Linked DNA regions of Homo sapiens. The protein of the gene in region 2 purifies or fractionates together with the protein of the main gene of each other region. This does not show direct contact. Each region holds a gene or a part of one and is shown on either strand. Other genes may lie near its edges.

What was found. The genes of interacting proteins can lie anywhere in the genome.
Region 1: the proteins of ROBO3 (region 2) and CTPS2 purify together in Homo sapiens (affinity purification with mass spectrometry; one large-scale study listed by BioGRID and IntAct). This does not show direct contact.

The regions. Positions count from the first base shown.
Region 1 is NC_000023.11:16,699,170-16,702,669, forward strand, and holds part of CTPS2 (CTP synthase 2), read right to left. Parts: intron 1-3,500. UniProt on the Homo sapiens protein: Catalyzes the ATP-dependent amination of UTP to CTP with either L-glutamine or ammonia as the source of nitrogen. Constitutes the rate-limiting enzyme in the synthesis of cytosine nucleotides.
Region 2 is NC_000011.10:124,863,869-124,868,359, reverse strand, and holds the start of ROBO3 (roundabout homolog 3 isoform a precursor), read right to left. Parts: upstream 2,929-4,491; 5' UTR 2,783-2,928; coding exon 2,623-2,782; intron 1-2,622. UniProt on the Homo sapiens protein: Receptor involved in axon guidance during development. Acts as a multifunctional regulator of pathfinding that simultaneously mediates NELL2 repulsion, inhibits SLIT repulsion, and facilitates Netrin-1/NTN1 attraction.

The DNA of each region.
Region 1 (3,500 bases), on a different chromosome or scaffold from region 2:
AAAAGCTGGTAAAAGATGTATTTGTAAGCCATATTCTATCACCATCTCCTTTTTGGTGGAGATATTAACAATTCAATTATATCCAAGAAAATGCATCAGAAAATTCTATTTATAATATTCTATTGTGGTTTTTTTTTAATCTACTGAAATTCTGTCTTCAAGATTTAGCTTTTCCAAACTCAACATATGCCACATAAAAAAGACATGAAAACAGAAATTTTAAAAACAAACAGCATTTTACTTCAAAGCATCAGTATCCTGGACTCTGGAACTGCGATAAGAAACTTTTACTTGATTCTCATCTTGATTAAAGCCATAATTAGACAGTAGATGACAAAGCAAGGCCACAGCTAACCCATAAGGCAACTTGGTGAAAGTGAGGGAAAAAGCCTGTGTGTGCCATAAGCTACGTGCACAATGCACTGTCATAAAAGACAGGTGCAGACTTCGTCACACGAGGAGCACCAACTTTAACTACTAGACACGTCTGTAGATCTCTATTGTCACTTCAGGGCATGGACTGAGAGTCGTATGTTTCTAAAGCCACCTTGTAAGAATTGAACCTTTCCCCTATTAAGGGAACTATCATTTATTCCTACTGTTAGATGTCCACAGGAAAAAAGGTTGATTAACTTACAAATTTAATCAGAAGCCTTTTATATCCTAATTTATTTATCCATTCTAAGGTACATAACTGTGGTCTAGAAAATTAATTTTAAGGAAAAAAGCAAATTGATATCACAATACTTTTTTTTTCAATTTTTTTTTTCAATGTTTTTTTTTGAGACAGAGTTTCGCTGTCAACCAGGCTGGAGTGCAGTGGCGTGATCTCAGCTCACTGCAACCTCCGCCTCCTGGATCCAAGCAATTCTCATGTCTCAGCTTCCCAAGTAGCTGGGATTACAGACATGTACTACCACGCCTGGCTAATCTTTGTATTACCATTATTATTATTATTATTATTTTGAGACAGGGTCTCACTCTATCGCCAGGCTGGAGTGCAGTGGTGCGATCTCGGCTCACTGCAACCTCTGACTCCCTGGTTCAAGCAATTCTCCTGCCTCAGCCTCCTGAGTAGCTGGGATTACAGGTGTGCACCACCACACCCAGCTAATTTTTTTGTATTTTTAGTACAGACAGGTTTTTACCATGTTGGCCAGGATGGTCTCCATCTCCTGACCTCGTGATCCACCTGCTTCAGCCTCCCAAAATGCTGCGATTACAGGCGTGAGCCACCGTGCCCGGCCTATTATTTTTTTAAATAGAGACAGAGTTTCGCCATGTTTGCCAGGCTGGGTAGGAGAATCGCTTGAACCTGGGAGGCGGAGGTTGCAGTGAGCCGAGGTCACACCACTGCACTCCAGCCTGGGCGACAGAGTGAGACTCTGTCTCAAAAAAAGAAAAAAAAAATCATTAAAAAAAAATCCAAAGAAAATTTGGTGTAACACATGGCATTAGTCAATGGTGCCACACAACAAACAACCCCAAAATCTCTGCAACTTACAAAACATTTATTTATTTCTCCCTCATGTTACATGGGGGCTATGAGTCACTTGTGAGTCTATTCTTTGTGTCTTCTCATTCCAGGACCCAGACTGAACGAGAAATCTCTGAAAACCAGGCTGTTCTCATGGTAGAGGGCAGAAGCACAAGACAGACTGAGCCAAACCACACAGATGCATTTGACATTTTCTGCTTCAACAAGGCATATGTTAATATTCCCTAACATCCCATAGGACAAAATAAATCACATGGCCAAATAGAGTGACCAACCTGCTTGGTTTGCCCAGGACTAAGAGGGCTCCCAGGACACAGGACTTTCTGTTTTAAAATCAGGAACATTCCAAACAAACCAGGACAAGTTAACTATCCTACGTGGCCAAACTCCAAGGTCAAAGGGCAGGGAAATGTACTCCACAGAGGGATGGTGGGTAACATTTTGAAGCAAAAATACAATCTACCACAGACTTGAATAAGTCATTCACAAACAAAATCAAAATCAAAGAACTCTAAATTAAAACAATAAGATACCCTCTTTTTGTTTGTTTTATTCTCAGGTTAGTAAAGTTTAAAACACGATATTCAAGGCCTGGTGCAGTGGCTCATGCCTGTTGCAGTGGCTCATGCCTGTAATACCACCACTTTGGGAGGCCGAGGTAGGAGGATTGCTTGAGCCCAGGAGGTCGAGACCAGCCTAAGTAACATGGCGAAATCCCAGCTCTATAAAAAAATTACATAAATTAGCCAGGTGTGGTGGTGCACACCTGTAATCCCAGCTACCCAGGGGACTGAAGCAGGAGGATCACTTGAGCACAGGAGGTGGAGGTTGCATTGAGCCGAGATCTTGGCCACTGCACTCCAGCCTGGGCGATAGAGTGAGACCCTGTCTCAAAAAACAAAAACAGGAAGACAGGATAGCAACAAGGGACACAAACATTTTTTTTTTTTTTGAGATGGAGTCTCACTCTGTCACCCAGGCTGGAGTGCAGTGGCGCAATCTCGGCTCACTGCAAGTTCGCCTCCTGGGTTCACGCCATTCTCCCACCTTAGCCTCCCGAGTAGCTGGGACTACAGGCGCTCGCCACCGCGCCCGGCTAATTTTTGTATTTTTAGTAGAGACGGGGTTTCACCGTGTTAGCCAGGACGGTCTCGATCTCCTGACCTCGTGATCCGCCCGCCTCAGCCTCCCAAAGTGCTAGGATTACAGGCGTGAGCCACCACGCCCGGCAGGACATGAACATTTCTGTTTCTTGATCAGGGGCTGGTTACACAGTGTGTTCATTTAATGAAAATTCATCCAACTGTACACTTATGATTTATGCACTTTTTTGCTTGTATATAAAAAGGTTTTTTTGGGGGTTGGTTTTTTGTTGTTTTTGTTTGTTTGTTTGTTTGTTTGTTTTGAGACAGAGTCTCGCTCTGTCGCCCAGGCTGGAGTGCAATGGCTCGATCTTGGCTCACTGCAACCTCCGCCTGCCAGGTTCAAGTGATTCTCCTGTCTCAGCCTCCTGAGTAGATGGGACTACAGACACGTGCCACCACGCCCAGCTAATGTTTTGTATTTTTAGTAGAGACAGGGTTTCACTGTGTTAGCCAGGATGGTCTCGATCTTCTGACCTCGTGATCCACCTGCCTCGGCCTCCCAAAGTGCTGGGATTACAGGCATGAGCCACCGCACTGGGCCTTATAAAAAGTTTTTTAAAAATAGCATGTAAGGGCTAATGCCATTTTAAAAATAAATCAAATATACTCATACATCAAAATGTCACCATTAATAATAGTTACTCCAGGCAGTGGGAAATGTTAAGAGAAACACACTACCTTTATGTTAAAAATAAAACAGAATCTGTAGTGCAAAAGATACAATGTTTCCAAAAGGGATGATTAATTTGGAATGTCATCAGAGGTATGAACAATGTATCAATGACCATGAGAAAATTCACATATTCATAGCATACGATCTAGTCACTCTAAATCTGGAACTACATCCTAAAGAAATT
Region 2 (4,491 bases):
GTTTGTTCTTGACTTCTGCAAGGTCCTGGCTCAGTGAAATTGGGAATGTGGACTGGCTTGGGATCCCTTATGAAAGGCAAGACGGGAGTGACAGGGCCGGGCCTAGAAGGGCTTGTCAACCTGGATTCTATGAATCGGCACAGGGCCCTTCTTACTGACACCCCGGATAATCACGCTTCATTTCAAGGGTCCTGTGAAGTCACAGGAATTGAACGCAAATAGCAGTAGAAATGTTAGTAAGGCTCCTTTTCCTGACAGGTGCATAGTTTCCAATAGATTATTCTACTGATTGATGTTCCTCTACTTCCCCTGTTCACTCCGATCAGTTCATCCACATATTCTGTCCTACCTGTCACTTGGCCTGCAGACTTTGGCCTGTTTCACCTTCTGCAGCACGGTTAGGATCCCGGAGCCTGTTATACTCCGGCACTCTCAGCCCCTAGTCCAGCCAACAAAAGTGGATTTGTAACCCGTGGCGGCCAGTAGGTGCCACTGCAGCCTTTAATAACCTGCTGTAAAATAACCAGGGACCACTTCAAGCATCTGTTCTGCCCCCTGCCCCCTCCCCCTGTTCCCCCCTTCCTACCCTGTTCCAAAATCTGCAGGAACCTCCCGCTTCCAGCCCGCCTGTGAGATTGGGTTTCATTTCCTGCCCCCCCTCTTAGAAGTTCTGTTGTAGACAAAGCTGGACAGGCTGACCCGTGCTGGCGCTGTTCTGAGTTTATTTTAATTGCCTGGAGTCAAGAAGATCGATTTCTGTCCCACTTGGGAGAGTAATTTTCTCCATCTCCTCCCTTCCAAATGGAAATCTCTGCTTTTCACCCTTCTCTTCTCCTCCATCTCCTCCCATTCCCAATTTTGGAACACCCCGTGGTGAGCAACACTGGAGTGATTGAGAGCAAGTGTTGCTGTTGAACCAACCAGGGCTGGAATCTCAGACTTTGACGCTTCCTAGCTGTAAGAACTTGGGCAAATTATTTAACTTCTCTCAGTCTCAGTTTCTTTCTTTGTGATGTGAGAGCAGTGATAGGGTTGCTCTAAGACCATAATGTATGTAAAGCCCTTGGGGGATAAACGTCACTACTCTGCCATTATTTAAGGGCTTGTGTTCCCAGCATATGCACCTTATCTTGGCTCCTACAGTCTCTACCTGAATCAAATTCTACCAGGCCCCAATATTCTTTTTTCCCCTTGGTATAGCCCTCAGGTGTAATGGAAATGGACTGATCTGTTATCGCTAGGTTTTGCTTCATGCTGCTTTTGTGACGATTAGGGCACCATTCACTCTATAAAGCGTTTTCTCGGCGGCAAAATGTGTCTGTCAACACCTTCCTTGCATACCTCACTAAGTTTCGAGCTTAGATGAGACAAAGTATGGTGAAAACACTCTGTAAACGCGCTAGGTGAGCAGAAGCGGGACTCTGCGGGGTGCCAGCGAGAAGGGATCTGTGCTTAACCTCCTGGAAATCTAGGAGGGTCAAGAGGTTGGAGAATCGGGCTCCTCCCCCATCGTCTTTCTCCCCAATCCTTCTATACGGACCACACCCTTCTGGTCGGCCTTTTCCCCCTAATTCCTGTAGACACAGCTGCAGGCGCCCTTTCCCTGGAATTTCCCCCTCTACCCTTCCCGGTCTCAGGAGATGCTTCGACTGCAGCCTAATGAATAGCTAATGGCCATGCTAATGAGGCTCTGGGGCTCCTCCCTCAGCACCTGATGTGCCCCACACATGAACACACACATATTGCCAGGGTCTCCTTTCTCTCCACCTTCGAGTCCCCAGCACAGTGCTCGTCACTAGACTCGAGTGGGTCGAGGCAGAGGGATGGGGACCGCGTGCACCTGGAGGGAACCACACGCGAAAGCGCCCGGTAAAGCGGGGGTTCCCGATGCGGCAGGCAGGGGGCGCGCTCCGGCCTCTCCGCAGGCTGGCGGCGGCCGGCTCCCGCAGCTTCCCCGCGGCGCTAGGGGAGAGCGCGCTGTCCCAGTCATTTATTAATCACCGTAATTAGCGGTAACGACCTCGCCGCCAGCTCCGCCCGCCCGCCACAGCTCTGCCGGGGTGGGCCGGCTGAGAGTCCCGCCGCTGAAAGACAAACTTCTAAGTTTCCTTAAAATGATCGCCGCCCCTATCCCCTCCGTAGCAAACACATCCAGCATTTTGGCTTCCTCTGGTCCTAAGTGAGTTCTTGGGAAACTTCGGGGTTCCGAAGACCAGCTGCCTGGGTGGGTCACCGAGTGACCTGGCTTGGCCGAGGCCGGCGGGAGACTGTGCCCCCTCCTCTGCCCTCCCTGCGCTGGGCCCGGGCCTTTCTTAGCTCGGACTTCCCTGCCCGTTACCAGCAACGGTTCTTCTCACCTGGGGTGGGCGTTGTAGGGGAAGGGAAGGAGGTGTAAAAAGACTCAGTAGCCATCTTCTCCCAAGCCCTCGACCTCCCGCGGGTACCCCCACTCATGTGCTCGAAGCTCCAAATTATCCCTTAGACCCCACGACCCAGGGAGGCGCTGGGAGGCGCCACTCAATCCCGGACCTCGGGACAGGAGCGCTTCTCCTTCCCTTCCACGCCGCCCTCTCACCTCATCCCCATCCCAGGATCCCATATCCCCAAGAGGCAGGGTCTCACCGTTGAGAGAGGGATCGCCGGGAGGCAGCAGGGTGTGGTTGAGCGCCGCCAGCGAGGAGTTGAAGCCCAAGAGCAGCTCGCTGGAGTTGGAGATGTCCCCGGCCAGAGAGTCCGCGAACAAGTTCATCTGCAGCAGCGTTTTCAGCAGGTAGCGCAGCATGGCTCGACCCAGCTGGGATCGGGACTGGGGGCTGGGGGCCCAGCCCCTGGGTCTGAGACCCGTGGGCTGGGAGCCGTAAGCCCCTCCACAGCCTCTGCGCGCTGCGGCAGCCACGGTGCCGCTCTCCTGCCGGTGCGCCTGGGTACGGTCGGTGCCTCTTCGTGCCCTCCTCCTTCCCTCGTCCTTCTCTCCACCCCCTAGTGCCGGAGTCCCCTGGGAGCTGGGCAGGCGGAAAGCAGGTGCCACGCCGATCACGGCGTAATTAAGGGATTAATCCGCCTCCCTCCACCCTCCCACCCTTACCTCTACAGTCACTATCCGAGCAGGAGACACGAGTAGCGTAGCGCGCGAGTTGGAGTCCCCGCCCCGCACCCCAAGCCCAGCGTTCCGTTCTGGACGCGGCGAGAGATTTTCCCTGTCTCAAAGCACCCAAGATGAGGGACGAGGCTCTGTCGGACTCTGCCCTTCTGCCCAACTTTAGAACAGGAATCTGTCCTCTCTTTTCCCGAACCTTTTGGAAACTGAGGCAAAGCGCAAGCAATGCTCCTTGCTGCCAAAGTTCTGGTTTCCATTCCCTCCCAAGTCTAGGGGTTTGGCGACGGAAGGGCAGGAGACTGGGGTGGTTTGCAGCAAGAGTTGGGAGTAGGCAGAGAATTCCAAGACAGGTCCACCTCTCTGCCCTCTGGTCCTTTGGTCTGCAGCCAGGAGGCCAGAGGATGGAGCGGCGCGCCCTGACCCGGGAGTCCTGCTCCAAACGCCCTAATCTAGGAGTTCCTGTAGGAGACTGAAAGCCAGGGAAACCCAGGCAACTGTCATTTATTTGAATCCTTTTACATTACCCTGCTTTGACATTTTTTATTAAATTGTTTTACGTTTTTGAGGAGACTGAAATGGAACCAAGGATTCTAGGACAAAAACAAAGATAATATTATTTTTGTAAAGGCATGTGGGATTGCTGCAAAATTAGTGCAAATCTGTTCAAATCGGATAGCAGTCGTCCTTCCTGGGGGGGGCGAAAAGAAAACCATGGGCCCCTACTCCCACCTCCCACTTCCAGTCGCGGTCTGCTTCTGACTTTTCTGGAGTTCTTTCTACCTGAAGACCCACCTCGACAAACTCACTTTCCTAGACAGGAGATGGCTTTGGGGTATCAGGGAAAGAGAGAGGCCGGGGCATTCCTAACCTGAGGTAAGGCCCTGCTGATTGAAGAGTCAGTGCCAGAGTTCTGGCTCAGCCGTCAGGTTCTGGGATGAGACAACTTTCATGGGGCGACTGCTTCTGACCCCAAAGGGGTCGAGATCAGAGGGGTGGGTGCTATACAGTCGCAGACTCTGGAGTAAGCAGAATCAAGAATTGAAATATTTCAGGCAGAGCTTGTTCAAGGGAACCCGAGACATTGTCAAGGGGTGGGGGGCTTGTTCCAAGCCTCCTTCCTCAGTCCAGGCGCCTGGCTGTGAGCCTCCAACTATGGGTGTTTAGGTGCCTTCCAACCCTAGCAGTTCTGGGCGGGACGTAGAAAGGCTGGAAGCACTAGGTGTGGGGGAGGGGGTAGGTGGGAGTGGGGGTGGGGCCGGATGGACCCCCCACCCCACCGCCACGCAGCGCCCTGGGAGCTGTCCTTTTCAGCACCTCATCTGCAGGTGCCTGACTAGGGCCCTGGAGCCCCCAGGGAAGACATAAATCCGAGCAGACCCTGAGGCTGAGGACTG